2 separate regions of the Homo sapiens genome follow, and region 1 is linked to region 2. A link means that fine-mapping ties the variant in region 2 to the expression of a gene that starts in the linked region. Tissue or cell type: skeletal muscle. Region 2 holds a variant in brackets; the other region holds the start of a gene. All regions are shown on one strand. Distances are from middle to middle.

The links. PIP is the estimated chance that this variant, and not a neighbour inherited with it, causes the effect.
Region 1: it holds the start of FKRP, and the variant in region 2 is fine-mapped to the expression of FKRP in skeletal muscle (FUSION, PIP 0.95).

Annotation. Positions count from the first base shown.
Region 1 is chr19:46,741,232-46,749,331 of GRCh38, reverse strand. FKRP (fukutin related protein) reads right to left here and starts at 3,275. Exons shown (of 4, transcript NM_024301.5): 1 at 3,242-3,275; 2 at 1,244-1,305; 3 at 667-817. STRN4 (striatin 4) reads left to right here and starts at 2,882. Exons shown (of 18, transcript NM_013403.3): 1 at 2,882-3,183. The coding sequence starts at 2,902. RefSeq lists silencers at 2,457-2,506, 2,547-2,646, 2,687-2,836, 2,847-2,896, 3,107-3,336.
Region 2 is chr19:46,705,093-46,713,193 of GRCh38, reverse strand. It overlaps PRKD2 (protein kinase D2), which reads left to right. Exons shown (of 18, transcript NM_016457.5): 3 at 2,156-2,287. It overlaps MIR320E (microRNA 320e), which reads left to right and starts at 3,840; the gene lies at 3,840-3,912. RefSeq lists an enhancer at 2,527-3,345. The variant A/G (reference allele first, on the strand shown) is at 4,673.

The sequences.
Region 1 (8,100 bases), 36 kb before region 2:
GTTGATCCAAGAAGCTGGCTACAGAGTCGTACTTTAAACCAGTAAACTTTACCTTCTCTCTTGGGTTCTTTCTGAAGCCCCAACTCTCAGCCCATCTTTAGTGAGCCTTCCCCAGCCCTAACCTGACAGGGGCTTTCAAAGCTTGGCTATGGCACATTAATAAATTAATTCAACTCAGTAACTCAACAAACTCAAGTATTCTTTGTGGTGGACCCCATGTTTTGAGGATACAGAATGAACGAGGTACTCATTAGGTCAGCCCTCCAGAAGACAGAAAGAAGACTGACAGGGCCACGTGTGGTGGCTCACACCTGTAATCTCAGTACTTTGGGAGGCCCAGGCGGTCAGATCACCTGAGGTCAGGAGTTAGAGACCAGCGTGGGCAATATGGTGAAACCCCCTCTCTACCAAAAAATACAAAGATTAGCTGGGCATGGTGGTGCGCACCTGTAATCCCAGCTATTGGGGAGGCTGAGGTGTGAGAATCACTTGAACTCAGGAGGCGGAGGTTGCAGTGAGCCGAGATTGCTCCACTTCACTCTAGCCTGGGTGAGACCCTGTCTCAAAACAAACAAACAAACAAAAAAAAGACGGACAAAAGCCATGCAACTTACAGACAGGGCAGGAAACCAGCAGGGGGCGCAAGAGTAGAAACAGGGGGCTTGCCTTAGAAATGGTAGTCAGAGGGGACAGTTACTCTGAGAGTTTACTTGTCTCTCCAGTCCCCACAAAACAAGGTAAATGAATCCAAATTCTCTTCAGGCCTTGGGTTCACTGGGTCTGAGTTGCGATTTGGCCTGAGCCTCAGTCCCTGCACCTGTGGAATGGGAATGTGACGGTTAGAAAAAAATGAGAGGGCTGGGCGCGGTGGCTCACGCCTGTAATTCTAGCATTCTGGGAGGCCGAGGCGGGCGGATCACGAGGTCAGAAGTTCGAGACCAGCCTGCCAACAAGGTGAAACCCCATCTCTATTAAAAATACAAAAAATTAGCCGGGCGTGGTGGCAGGTGCCTGTAATCCCAGCTACTCGGGAGGCTGAGGCAGGAGAATCGCTTGAACCAGGGAGGTGGAGGTTGCAGTGAGCCATGACCGCGCCACTGCATTTCAGCCCGGGCAACAGAGCGACACTCCGTCTCAAAAAAGAAAGAAAGAAAAAGAAAAAAATGAGAGACATGGGAAAGCCTTAAGGAATGAGGAAGGGCAGTTTCCATGAGAGTGTAGGTGACACTGAGGGACTTCTTACCTCCTAGGTTGTAGGCTGGGGGAGTTCCAGGAGGGCAGTTCCAGCCCAGCTGAGCTGCGCTCCTGAGAGGAGGAGAACCAGAAAATCCCAAATCAGCCATTTCCGTACAATAGAGCACAATTTCATCTTATCCACAAAAGTGGCAAGAGAAAGGTCAGGGAATCCTTTCTCTTGAAGTCCTATAATCTCGGGCACCACCTGGGGTGTCTCAGGAGTGGGGTGGGGTGAATGGGAGGGATGTCAGTTATTATAGCAACCTATAACCATCCCTCTAGCATGAATGTGTCCAGAAAAGGTAGGGCTAGAAGCCAACAGAAGCTGTTACCATGACAACCCCTTCCATAGACACACTCTACCTCTGAGAGACATTCTTAAAACATCCCCTGGCCGGGCGTGATGGCTCACACCTGTAATCCCAGCACTTTGGGAGGCCGAGGCGGGCCTGAGGCAGATCACCTGAGGTCGGGAGTTCAAGACCAGCGTGACCAACATGGAGAAACCCCGTCTTTACTAAAAATAAAAAAAAAATTAGCCGGGCGTGGTGGCGCATGCCTGTAATCCCAGCTACTTGGGAGGGTGAGGCAGGAGAACGGCTTGAACCGGGGAGGCGGAGGTTGTGGTGAGCCGAGATTGGGCCATTGCATCCCAGCCTGGGCAACAAGAGTTACACTCTGTCTCAAAAAAAAAAAAAAAAAAAAAAATCCCCTCCTTTGTTGGGCTTGGTTCCTAGGGTCACTCGAAGGGGGCTGCTCTATTATCATAGTAACCAGGCCTTGAACTTGCCTGTTTCTCACCTTCCGGAGGAAGGTCCAGGCCCTGTAACCATAGCAACTGCCCCTCAGCAGAGCATCTCCTCTAAATAAAAACACCTGGTTAGTTTGGTGCATGGGCCTCCCACGATGGGAAGGGGAAGACGGTTACCATGGTAATGCCAACTAGGTGGCTATGGGGGAGGGGCTGGGGAAGAGGTGCTTCTCTTAGAGATCAGTGTCCTTGGGGCTGGGGTCCTTTCTACCTGAATGCTAGGTGGGGGGGAGGTTGCCATAGTAATCAATGAGGATAGGAGCAGAAGGACCACCACGGACACTTAGGTTACCTTAGCAACCTTCTCCTGGTGCAGAGTCCTAAGAGGTTTGGGGCTCCATAACCACAAAGGTGGAAGCGAGGGGAAGGCTGCTCCCCACCACCTCGCCCCCACCGCTGGGGAAGGGTTACCATGACAACCAACCTGGCCGGCAATCAGAGAGGATGGGGCCACTGCTGGTCGCCCTTTCTCTCAGAGTAAAAGTAATTGTCCAGGAGAGTGGTGTTTGGGTGTGGAAGGGGTAAGGCTCTTTCTCTGGGGCGAAGTGGGAGGAGGGGGGCAGAAAGCGGCCCCTTCCTCAGTCTCACTCCAGCGAGGGGGACCGTCGCGCGGGGCCTGGGTCTCCCTCGCCCTCCTCGGGGCGCGATCTCCCACCCGCCGGCCCCCGCGCGGGCACGCTACCCTTCGGTGTAGACCCGGGTGGGCGAGGCTCGCGCTCGCCGCCGGCCCCCCTTCCTACTGTCCCCCGCCGGGCGCGCGCGCGGTGGTTGCGGCGGGGGAGGGGGGGGGGTGTTGGCGCGGCCGCGCAGGCGCGCGAGGCACAGCGGGCGCGCAGGCCGGCCCCGGGGCCTCCATGATGGAGGAGCGAGCGGCCGCCGCGGTCGCCGCCGCCGCCTCCTCCTGCCGTCCGCTCGGCTCAGGCGCGGGCCCTGGCCCCACTGGGGCGGCCCCGGTCTCCGCCCCTGCCCCCGGGCCGGGCCCGGCAGGTAAGGGAGGCGGCGGCGGAGGCAGCCCCGGGCCCACGGCGGGCCCGGAGCCCCTGAGCCTGCCGGGGATCCTGCACTTTATCCAGCACGAGTGGGCGCGCTTCGAAGCCGAGAAAGCCCGCTGGGAGGCCGAGCGCGCCGAGTTACAGGTGAGCGCTGTCCCGGGACCCCCGACCCCCAACCCGGCCCGGCCCGGCCCGGCCTCACCCGCTGCCGCCGCCGCCGCCATCTTGGAGCAATGGCCGCCGGGACGGCCGGCGGGGGGGCGGGAGGGGACCGCGACGGTCCCGGAGGGCGAGTGAGGGGCCGTCCGAGGGGTGTCCTGAGGGCACTCCGGGGTGGGACGGGACCGGGACGGCCCGAGGTGGGAGTGGAGGGACCGGGGGTGGGAGGGATCACCGGGACCGGCCGAGAGAAAGGGGCGGAGGGACCACAACCAGCTGGGAGTGGGACTGGGACTGGGACTGAGCACGCTGGCCGCGGGGCTCCTGAGAGAGGCGACTCGAGCCCTGGAGGGGAGGCTAAGAGAACTCGGGAAAGGGTGTGGAGAGGAGCTGGAGGGGTCTGGGAGACCTGAGTGGTCTCCTGTGGGAGTAAGCAGAAGCTTGCCGGGCGCCGAGGGACTCCCGACCCCGACCCCGACCATGGCCCTAGCCAGGTGCAGGTTGGAGGTGGGAGCGTCCAAGGGGGGAACTTGGGACCCGCTGGGAAAGAGCGGGTCCAGATGGGGAACCGGGAGGATTTAGGGAGAGGAAGTCGGGAACCTGGGATCGGTGTGTTTCGGGGCGACTGGACGGTGGGCACGGAAGGAGGGCTGTGTAAGGACCCGAGGGGTGGGAGGAGGGTTTCAAGGGGTCCAGGATGAAGGTGTGTGCCTTCCCCTCTGAGGAGAAACTTTGGGGATCCCGGGCATGTGTGGCTGCACAGTGCAGGGAAGGGTTCTTTGGAGTGGAAGTGTGGACAGAGCAGGGAATGTACCCTAGGAGCCTGGATGGGAGAGCTTAAGAGTGGAAGTTCCACTTTGGGGGTGTGCAGGAGTGGGCGCGATGGCACTGAGATGGCACGTGTGTTGTAGGATGTAGGTAGAGAGCCCTGAACTGGAGTGTGGGGTGTTGGGCATGTCCAGTATGGAGGTGAGGGTCCTGGGATGGTGCCAATGAGGACGAGTTAGGGGTTACCCTGGGGTGATGCTTTAGGGGGGAGAATTTTGTAGAGCCCGAAGGCAACATGAGGAGGCATCTCGGAACGGGGGTAGACTGGGGTTGGGGGGAAGGGGATATGTTTGTGGAAGTCTTGGGAAAAGACCCCGTGGTTTTTGGGGTAGCTTGGGACAGGGATGTTGAATGGAAGAGTCTGAGGAGTTGGGCTAGGGTTTGTGACCTCGTGGAGCGTCAGGTCCATTGGCAGTGACTGGAGGACCATGGAGATGTCCGGATTTGAAGGGATCAGGAATGGCCCGCTGGAAGTCTGAAGATTCTTGGACTGGGTTATTATTAGCAGAAATTGTCATTACCTGCTTGTAGCAGCCCACCTTTCCCCTTCCGATTTGCCGTTTGCTATCTAGTAGGAAGCTGGTACCCAAATAAATAGCTGATGAGAATTGTGTCGGTAGGGATGGGGTGCGGTGGCTCACGCCTGTAATCCCAACACTTGGGGAGGTTGAGGTGGGAGAATCCCTTGAGCCCAGGAGTTCGAGGCCAGCCTGGCCAACATAGCAAGACCTCATCTCTACAAAAAAGTACAAAAATTAGCCGGGTGTGGTGACATGCGCCTGTAGTCCCAGCTACTCAGGAGGCTGAGGTGGGAGGATTGCTTAAACCCCGGAGGTTGAGGCTGCGGTGAGCCATGATTGCACCACTGCACTCCAGCCTGGGCAAAAGAGTGAGATCCTGTCTCAAAAAAAAGCATTTTGTTCATAGGATGAGTAAAGACCCTCCAGTAACTCTCCCCCTGCCCTCACTTGTGGTGGCTGAGGCTTGGGGCTGGGATGGGAGCAGAATCCTTATGTAACTGCTCTCACTTCTGTCCCACTCTCTACTTCCGAAGCTCTTTCCCAGCATACATCTCATCAGATCTTCACAATGCCCTGTGATGTAGGCAGAGGCAGTGTCATTACCTCACTCAGCAATAACGGTACCAGCTGCAATTTAGTGAGCACATACCATGTCTGGGGCGCTGTATCAAGTACTGTAGATACGAGCTGTCATTTAATTCTTGCAGCATTCTGGGAGGATAAAGGATATTCCCCCTACCTTTAAAAAAAATCAGGAGAGGAAATGGAGGTTTTGAGAGGGTGATTTATCTAGGATCCCAGCAGATGAGCAGAAGGGCTGGTCTGTGGTGGACCTTTTGTTTATTTATTTATTTATTTATTTATTTTTATTTTTATTTTTTTGAGACAGAGTCTCACTCTGTCACCCAGGGTGGAGTGCAGTGGCATGATCTTGGCTCATTGCAACCACTGCCTCCCAGGTTCAAGCGATTCTCCTGCCTCAGCCTCGCAAGTAGCTGGGATTACAGGTGTGCACCACCACCACGCCTGGCTGATTTTTGTATTTTTAGTAGAGATGGGGTTTTGCCACGTTGGTCAGGCTGGTTTCGAACTCCTGGCCTCAAGAGATCCACCTGCCTCGGCCTCCCAAAGTGCTGGGATTACAGGCATAAGCCACCATGCCCGACCGTCGGTAGACTTTTAAGCCCATGTTCTGTACCTCTCTGCTACCCAGTACAGTTGAGAAAATTGGTTCAGGCAAGCATAGTGGCCTCCCCAGGGTCACCCAAGCAGTCATAGCAGAGCTTGGACTGAATCTTGGCCTCTGGGACTTTGCACCAGTGCACCGCACAGCACCCACCACACCATCTTCTCATCCTGGAGGCTGATGAGAGAAAAGATGTTTATCCCCTCACTTACTGACCCTTCTTGGAGTTTGAGAGGAACTTGTGTCTGGCATGGTACCAGCACTGTCACTTTGTACTTTTGTTTTCTTTTATTCTGTTAAGTTAGTAAAAATTCAGACATCTCAGAGGGGTGTGTGTGTGTGTGTGAGTGTGTGTATACACATATATATGTAAGTGAAAAAGGAAAGTTCCTTCTCTTCGTCCCTTTCCTGCTCTTCTCTCCTGAGAGAGAAGAGTTATTGTGCTTATGTAATAGATGAACTACTGCTGTATGTATCATTTTGTGACATAATAATCTGTTTTGGTTTTCCTTTCATATCAGCACAGAGAACTCTTTCTTTTTGATAGCTGCATAGCGTCCCACGGGATGTTTGCACCATAGCTGATTGAGTTTGACCCTGGTTGGTGGACTTTTAGATTTTTTCTAGTTTTTCCCCCATCAGACATGGCTGCAGTGAGAACCCCTTATTCCTGTGCAAGAATGAAGCAGAACAGATGAGTGGAATAGTAGAATGGATGTGTTTATGAAACAGTGATTGGGCTGGGCGCGGTGGCTCGCGCCTGTAATCCCAGCACTTTGAGAGGCCAAGGCAGGTGGATCACAAGGTCTGGAGTTCAAGACCAGCGTGGCCGATATGGTGAAACCCCACCTCTACTAAAAATACAGAAATTAGTCGGGCGTGGTGGTGGGCGCCTGTAGTCCCAGCTACTCGGGAGGCTGAGGCAGGAGAATCGCTTGTACCCGGGAAGCAGAAGTTGCAGTGAGCCGAGATCACACCACTGCACTCCAGCCTTGGTGACAGAGCGAGATGCCATCTCAAAAAAAATAAAAATAAAAAAAGAAACAGTGAATGACTCTGCCACATTGACCCACCAGTTTACTCTCCCATCAGCGGCACCTCTTTTACACACCTTTACTTGAACACTTAGTGCTAACAGACGGTGTGACTTCCCCTGTGAGATCCCTTAAGAGCTAGGCAGTGTCAGATTTTCCTGATGGACTCTGAATAACTTTTCTCTGAAGAGCTTAATACAGCTGCTCCTAGCAGAAGACCTGCCGTGCGACCCTGCTTGGTACCTGTGTGTTGAATGGCAGAGAAGGCAGCCCCCAGGGAGGTCCTGCCAGTAGTCACCATAAGTTTGGAGCAGGAAGGTGGCGGAGCTGCAGTCTGATAATGAGCAGGCATTTGCTAGGTGGGGGATTCTGAGAAGTAAGTAACGTGGTTTCTGCCCATCCGAAACTTCCAGGCTGGCAGAGGAAGCTTGTTTGTGCAGGGGACCGCAGAGCTGTAGATGTTCATGCACAGTTGATTGTGTGGCTCTGCCCCTGTTCTGTGGCAACTCTGAGAGGGGAAGCTTTTTGAGGATGGGAGGGACCTTTTAATGAGGGATCTGAACTGGAGATTTGTATAGGAGCAGCGACAGGGACCTGCAGTGAGTGCGGTGCCAGCAGAGAATGTGCGGAGCTGCCCCTGCCCACTTCAGCTTCCTGGGGGCCCATTCCTGCCAGCAGCTGCTGAAGCTTGGGAAGGAGGCCCTTAGGAGATGCAGGGCTAGATGGCACGAAACGGGGACTCTTCCCAGCTAGCTGGGACAGGAAGCAGCGAATTCAGAGAGGCATCAGCTCCTGGGAGGACTGAATTGCTGGGACTCCTCCGAAGCCTTTAGATGTCGCCTTGCTGGGAATAGCTGGAGGGGCGGAGAGGCAGTAGCTGCCAGGTATCAGAAGGTTTTGGGAGCGCATGCTCTGCGGCTCTGGCTAGAGGGAGTGGCAGTGGGTGGATATGGTGAGCGGCACTTCCAGATCCCCGACCGACCCTCAGGCCTACCTTGGCCCTCGCAGACCAGACAGCCCGTGGGGGCTGCTGGCGTTTGCAGCGAGGGAGAGACTGGCCACTGACGCTTCCCGTTTTTGGTGGGTTTCCACCTCCCTGAGATGCTCCAACCATGTCTTTCTGGTTCTCTTTCCAGAGGCACTGGGAAAGGGACAGCAAAGCAGAGTGGGCAGCTGAGACCCTCACATCCTCATTAGGAGGAGGGAGACCACAGCTCGATGAGGCAGCAGAGGGATGAAGGGGGAACCCAGCCAGTGACAGGTCTGGTTGGGATGCCCAACTCCACCTCCTGCCCCCACAGATAGACCACTACTGTGTCCACTGCCCCGGCCT
Region 2 (8,101 bases):
AAAAAAAGTTAACCGGGCGAGGTGGCACACGTCTGTAGTCTCAGCTACTTGGGAGGCTGAGGTGGGAGGATTTCTTGAGCTTAGGAGTTTGAGGCTGCAGTGAGCCACGATCATGTCACTGCACTCCAGCCTGGGCAACAGAGAGAGACCCTATCTCTAAAAAAGAAAAAAAGTAGAAAAAGAAAAAAAAAAGTTATGATGTCCATGGCTCCTGCCACGAAAATGCTAAATTAAATCAGAATCTCTGCAAAGTGAGATGGAATCTGCACATCAGTATTTTTAAAAGCCCCCAGGTGATTTTCTAAGACACAGCCAGAAGCCAGTTCATCCACTCACTATTCCAGTAGTATAGATGGGCATGCTCTCAGCACCTTAGAGCAGTCTATGGCCCTTGGTCCCTCTTGAGGGTGGGGGCAGCTGCCTTTTTCATGGCTGCCTTCCCTGCTGCTCCGGCATACTGCAGTGCCCAGTGAAACCGGCTCAATGAATGAATGACAGAAGTCTGGATTTACACCTTTAGTGACCTTGTTCAGGCTTTAAGTACTCTTTCATATCATAAGCTGGCCTCACTTGAATTTTTATCTTCATTGTTGTCTCTCCCCTAAACCTGAGTTTTGTTTTGTTTTTGTCATTTTTATTATTTTTTGTTTTTTTAGACGGAGTCTCGCTCTGTCACCCAGGCTGGAGTGCAGTGGCGCAAACTCAGCTTGCTGCAACCTCTGCCTCCTGGGTTCAAGCGATTCTCCTGCCTCAGCCTCCCGAGTAGCTGGGATTACAGGCGCCTGCTACCACACGTGGCTAATTTTTGTATTTTTAGTAGAGACGGGATTTCACCTTGTTGGCCAGGCTGGTCTCGAACTGCTGATCTTAAGTGATCTGCCCACCTCAGCCTCCCAAAGTGCTGCGATTACAGGTGTGAGCCACCGCTCCCGGCCCTGTTATTTTGTTTTGAGGCAGGGTCTTGTTCTGTCACCCAGGCTGGAATGCAGTGGCATGACCACCACTCACTGCAGCCTCTACCTCCCAGACTGAAGCAATCATCCCGCCTCAGCCTCCTGAGGTGGCTGGACTATAGGCATTACAGGCATGCACCACCACACTGGGCTTTTTTTTTTTTTCTTTTTTTTAGACAGAATCTTACTCTGTCACCCAGGCTGGAGTGCCGTGGCATGATCTTGGCTCACGGCAACCTCTGCCTCCCGGGTTCAAGCAATTCTCCTGCCTCAGCCTCCTGAGTAGCTGGGATTACAGGCACGCGGCACCAGGCCTGGCTAATTTTTGTATTTTTAGTAGAGACGGGGTTTCATCATGTTGGCCAGGCTGGTTTCGAACTTCTGACCTCAAGTGATCCGCCCACCTGGGCCTCCCAAAGTGCTGGGATTACAGATGTGAGCCACCGGGCACCGCCTATCCATGTTCTTTTTTGTTGTTGGTGGTGGTATTTTTAATTAAAAATTTTTTAATTTGGTAAAATATACATAACATAAAAATTACTATTTTAGGCCGGGTGCAGTGGCTCACGCCTGTAATCCCAACACTTTGAGAGACCGAGGCGGGCAGATCACCTGAGGTCGGGAGTTTGAGACCATCCTGGCCAACATGGTGAAACTCCGTCTCTACTAAAAATACAAAAATTAGTCGGGTGTGGTGGCGCATGCCTGTAATCCCAGCTACTCTGGAGGCTGAGGCAGGAGAACTGCTTGAACCCGGGAGGCGGACTTGTGGTGAGCCGAGATCTCACTACTGTACTCCAGCCTGGGTGACAGAGTGAAACTCTCTAACAAACACAAACAAAAAAGCCCACAACATTTTAAGCACTTTTAAGCGTACAGTTCAGTAATTTAAAGTTCACGCACACTGTTGTGCAGCCGGTCTCCAGAACTGTTGTCATCTTGCGAAACTGAAGCTCCTTGCCCGTTAAACAACTCCCCAATTCCCGCTCTGTCCCTGCCCAGGGCGTAGGGATATATGTGTTTTGTTCAGGGGTGGAGCTGGGATTTGAACCCAGGCAGAATGTAGTATGAGAGCAAATGAAGGAAGGAAGGAAAGATCACACCTTGCGGCTGGGAGCACTGTGAGAAATCAGGGAACGTGGGGTCTGGAAAAGCTTTGGCCTACCCCGCCTCAAGCATCCACCCCTATTTTCCGCCTACAGCCTCGGCCACCTTCGAGGACTTCCAGATCCGCCCGCACGCCCTCACGGTGCACTCCTATCGGGCGCCTGCCTTCTGTGATCACTGCGGGGAGATGCTCTTCGGCCTAGTGCGCCAGGGCCTCAAGTGCGATGGTGAGAGCTAAAGGGTTGGGGGCGGGGCCTGGGGCGGGGCTCTGCACCGGGGGCGGAGCGTAATGGTCCTGGCACGGGGACAGCGTGGGGAGGAGGAGCGGGTCTCAGAGCTGGGGGCGCAGCCTAGGAAGTAATAATGGGAAGAAGGATGGGCCCAGAAGCAGAGCTTGGGGAAGGAGTGGTGGGGCTGGGCCGGGGCTCAGGTCTAGGGGCGGAGCCTAGGAGGTGGAGCTGGGAGGGACAAGTAGGGGCTTAAGAACAGAGCCTAGGGGAGCAGAAGGGTGGCGGGGGAAGAGGGTGGGGCCTCTATCAGTTAGGGATCAAGCAGAGAAACATCCAGGAGGAGATATATATTGAGATATTTATATGCAAGGAATCAGCTTACAGAATTGTGTGGGCTGGCTAGGCAACTCAAATCTGGCTGGGCACAGTGGGGGAGGCCAGTAATCCCAGCACTTTGGGAGGCAAAGGTAGGTGGATCACTTGAGGCCAGGAGTTCAAGACCAGCCTGGGCAACATAGCAAGACTCTGCCTGTACAAAAAATAATTAGCCAAGCATGGTGACAGACACTTGTGGTCCCAGCCACTTGGGAGGCTGAGGCGGGAGGATCACTTGAGCCTGGGAGCTCGACACTGTAGTGAGCCCTGATTGCACCACTGCACACCAGCCTGGGTGACAGAGCGAGACCCTGGCTCAAAAACAGGAAAAAGGCCGGACACGGTGGCTCATGCCTGTAATCCCAGCACTTTGGGAGGCCGAGGCGGGTGGATCACGAGGTCAGGAGATTGAGACCCTCCTGGCTAACATGGTGAAACCCCGTCTCTACTAAAAATACAAAAAATTAGCCGGACGTGGTGGCACACGCCTGTAGTCCCAGCTACTTGGGAGGCTGAGGCAGGAGAATTGCTTGGACCTGAGAGGAGGAGGTTGCAGTGAGCCGAGATTGTGCCACTGCACTCCAGCCTGGTGATAGAGTGAGACTCCTTCTGAAAACAGAAACAAAAACAAAACAATAAAAAGAAAAAGAAAAAAAAATCCATCCTATCAGGAAGGGCAAGTGGGAACTCAGGCACAAGCTGAAGCTGATGTCCACAGGTGGAATTTCTTCATCCGAAAAGTCTCTGATCTGCTTTTTAAAACATTCAGCTGATTGAATGAGACCCACCTAGAACAAGCAGGATCACCTCTCCCACTTACAGTCAGCTGATTATGGATTTTCATCACATCCAGAAAATACCTCCACTGGGCCGGGTGCGGTGGCTCACGCCTGTAATCCCAGCACTCTGGGAGGCCGAGGCAGGTGAATCACCTGAGGTCAGGAGTTCGAGACCAGCCTGTCCAACATGGTGAAACCCCGTCTCTACTAAAAATACAAAAAAGCCGGCGTGTTGGTGGACGCCTGTAATTCCAGCTACTCGGGAGGCTCAGTCAGGAGAATCTCTTGAACCCGGGAGGCAGAGCTTGCAGTGAGCTGAGATTGCACCATTACACTCCAGCCTGGGCAACAAGAGCAAAACTCTGTCTCAAAAAAATGAAAAGAAAAGAAAATACCTCCATGGGGCCTTCTCTTCCCAGTTCTTCCTGGAGTCGGGGAAAAGCTGGGTTGAGAAGGTGAAAAGAAAAAACAAACCTTGACTGGGCACAGTGGTTCACACCTGTAACCCCAGCACTTTGGAGGCTGAGGCAGGCGGATCATGAGGTCAAGAGATTGAGACCACCCTGGCCAACATGGTGAAACCCCATCTCTCCTAAAAATACAAAAATTAGCGGGCGTGGTGGCATGTGCCTATAGTCCCAGCTACTTGGGAGGCTGAGGTAGGAGAATCACTTGAACCCAGGAGACAGAGGTTGCAGTGAGCCGAGATCGTGCCACTGCACTCCAGCCTGGCAACAGAGCGAGACTCCGTCTCAAAAAAAAAAAAAAAAAAAAAAACCACAAACAAACCAACCTTCATGGCAACATCTAGATTAGTGTCTGAATAACTGTGGATCTCGCCTAGCCAAGCTGACACATTAACATGACTATCAGGGTCCATCTCTTGTCAACCTGGCACCTGTCTTAGTTTGTCAGGGCTGCCTTAACAAAATACCACCCTGCGTGGCTTAAATGACAGACATTTACTTCTCAAAATCCCTGGAATTGTGAGAGGCTGGAAAGACAAAGATCCAGATTCTGGCAGGGTTCTGTTTCTGGTGTAGCCTGCTTTCCTGCCTTGCAGAGGGCCATCATTTCACTGTGCGCTCACATGGGACACGGAGAGAGAGATCCCTGGTATCTCTTCCCTTTATAAGGAAGGCCAGGCATGGTGGCTCATGCCTATAATCCCAGCACTTTGGGAGGATGGTGGATCGCTTGAGTCCAGGAGTTCGAGACCAGCATGGGC[A/G]ACATGGTGAAACCCCGTCTCTAAAAAATACAACAAATTGGCCAGGCATGGTGGTGCATACCTCTAGTCCTAGCTACTCAAGAGGCTGAGGTGGGAGGATCACCTGGGCCTGGGAGGTTGAGGCTGCGGTGAGCCGTGATCATGCCACTGCACTCCAGCCTAGGTGACAGAACACGATTGTCTCAGAAAAAAAAAAAAAAAAAAAAAAAAAAAGGTCACCAGTCCCATTGGATTACAGCCACACTCTTTCGGCCTCAATTAACCTTAATTACCTCCATAAAGGCACCGTCTCCAGATATAGTTGCATTGGAGGTTAGGGTTTCAACATAAGAATTTTGGGGGAGACACAGACATTTAGTCCATAACAGCACCCATACATATCTCCTTAAATCATAGTTTAAAAATATACAGGTTTTCTTTTTTGGAGACAGCGTCTCAGTCTGTCACCCAGGCTGGAGTGCAGTGGCGCGATCTCAGCTCACCACAACCTCCACTTCCCAGGCTCAAGCGATTCTCCTGCCTCAGCCTACCGAGTAGCTGGGATTACAGGCACACACCATTACTGCCCGGCTAATTTTTGTATTTCTAGTAGAGACGGGGTTTCACCACGTTGGCCAGGCTGGTCTTGAACTCCTGACCTCAAATGATCCACCCGCCTTGCCCTCCCACAGTGCTGGGATTACAGGCATGAGCCACCGCGCCTGTCCAAAACATACAGTTCTTTAAGCCAAGATGTCTCAAGGTTCAGCCCAAGTGTCAAGATCTATATAGGTCCTCTGTCCCTGTTATTCATGCTTCTGAGTGAGAATGTTGAAATCGGGGCTCTGCCTACAGATGAAGGCCATGTACCTGCATTGGCTATGAGGACAGATGACAGGTGAGGACCATCCATTCTGTGATGAGACCCTGTGGCTCCATTGTTTTGTGTGTGTGAGACAGAGTCTTGCTCCGTCACCCAGGATGGAGTGCAGTGGCGTGGTCTTGGCTCACTGCAACCTCTACCTCCTGGGTTCAAGCAATTCTCCTGCTTCAGCCTCCCAAATAGCTGGGATTACAGGTGCGCACCACCACTCCTGGCTAATTTTTGTATTTTTAGTAGACGGGGTTTCACCATGTTGGCCAGGCTGGTTTCAAGTAATCCACCCTCCTCAGCCTCCCCAAGTGCTGGGATTACAGACATGAGCCACTGCGCTGGGCCCCATGCGCCTCCATTTTTGTATGGTGTGCCCTGCAATTAGAGCCATATTCTTGGATGTTCCATTGGGTATTAGGTCTGAGACAGCATCTCTAGCTCCGTGGGTGCCACGCTTGTACAGAAATCCTGATTCTGGGCCAGGCACGGTGGCTCACACCTGTAATCCCAGCACTTTGGGAGGCCAAGGCGGGCGGATCATGAGGTCAGGAGTTAGAGACCAGCCTGGCCAACATGGTGAAACCCTGTCTCTACTAAAACTAGAAAAATTAGCTGGGTGTGGTGGCGGGTACCTATAATCCCAGCTACTCGGGAGGCTGAGGCAGGAGAATCATTTGAACCTGAGGGGGTGGAGGTTGCAGTGAGCCGAGATCATACCATTGCACTCCAGCCTGGGTGACAGGGTGAGACTCCGTCTCAAAAAAAAAAAAAAAAAAGAAATCCAGTTTCTCCAATATCCTGTGTTCCAGATCATCATGCAGTCCAAAGTATACTTGTATTATTTAAGGACTCTAGGCCTGCAGATACTGATTCAGTGCATTAAAAGCTCTTATAAATATTGCCATCGTCCACACACCATATCCAACTCTTGAGGTCTCAGCATATGCAGTCTTTGTCATGATACAGCCCTGGTGTCATCAAGTCCTAATGGGTTATCAGCACAGACTTCACTGGTGCAGCATCACAGATGATGGTCCCAGTTCCTATGGTGGCAAGAGAACCCCAAATGACTACATTCCGACAGGAGTTTAACTCTATCCTGAGACTCATTCTGAGAGTTATAGATAAGATTCTGAAATTCTGGAAGGCACATGAGTGATTCAAGGCCAACACTGGGAAATGGTTCCTGTGTGCAAAGACCATTTGCCCTGCTGAAGCTCTTCTTGCAGGGCCAACACCGTTCTCCAAGCTTGCCTCCGTGATTACAGCATGCAGCCAAGACAGTGCCTACAATGAGGAGGTGTGGAACTGGAAAGCCTGGAGCAGGCGGGTACCAGAAGGGCTCCCAAAGGCTGGAGGAACATTCTTCACTCCAGAATAGAAAGCGATCCTGGAATCGTTTGGAATCACTGGAGATGTATTAGAGCACACATACAGAACGTCCAGTGGGAAACAGGGAGTTGAGCTGATTTCTCCATGGATGAGGATTTTAAAAGATAAAATAGGCAGGGCACAGTGGCTCATGCCTGTAATCCCAACACTTTGGGAGGCTGAGGTGGGAGGATCACTTGAGCCCAGGAGTTCAAGACCAGCCTGGGCAATGTAGCGAGACCCCATCTCTACAAAAAAATAAAAATAAAAAAATTATCTGGGCATGGTAGTGTATGTCTGTGGTTCTGGCTACTCAGGAGGCTGAGGCAGGAGGATTACTTGAGCCCAGGAGTTGAAGGCTGCAGTGAGCTATGATTGTGCCATTGTGCTTCAGCCGGGGGTACAGGGAGATCCTGTCTCTACAAAATAAAATAAGACAATAAGAAGTCATACTTCTGCCTAGTATGGTACAATGGACCTGAGTACAACTGAGAACTCTTTTTTTTTTTTTGAAACTGAGTCTCGCTGTATTGCCCAGGCTGGAGTGCAGTGGCGTGATCTCAGCTCACTACAACCTCTGCCTCCTGGGTTCAAGTGATTCTCCTGCCTCAGCCTCCGGAGTAGCTGGGATTACAGGCGTGTGCCACTACACCCGGCTAAGTTTTGTATTTTTAGTAGAGATGGGGTTTTGCCATGTTGGCCAGTGTGGTCTCAAACTCCTGACCTCAAGTGATCCGCCGGCCTTGGCCTCCCAAAGTGCTGGGATTACAGGCGTGAGCCACCATGCGTGGCCCACACTACTAAGATTTAATCACACTACTTAGGGATTGCCTGGATTCCAGGTCTACAGAAAAGAGAAAGTGGGGTACAGGGGGTGAGCAGACCTGGAGGGATAGTGACCTTAGGGGTGGGGGTGAGGAGAGGCATTTTCTTTTGGAAAGTTGGGGTTGGGGAAAGAGGGGGAACCAAAGGGGCCTCAGAAAAAGGAAGGTCAGGGTTAGAAGGGGGAACAGGTGTCTCTAGGGAGATGGACAGGAGTTTTGGGGAGGACTAGAAGGAGGTGCTTACCATAGAGGACTGGGGCTGGGTCAGAGCTTTGGCGGGGACTTTTGAGGCATCCATTGTTGCAGTGGGAAAAGGTGGGGTGTGAGGCGCGTTCAGGGCCTGGGGGGCAGATGGGGTGATGTCGGGGCTACAAGCTGGAA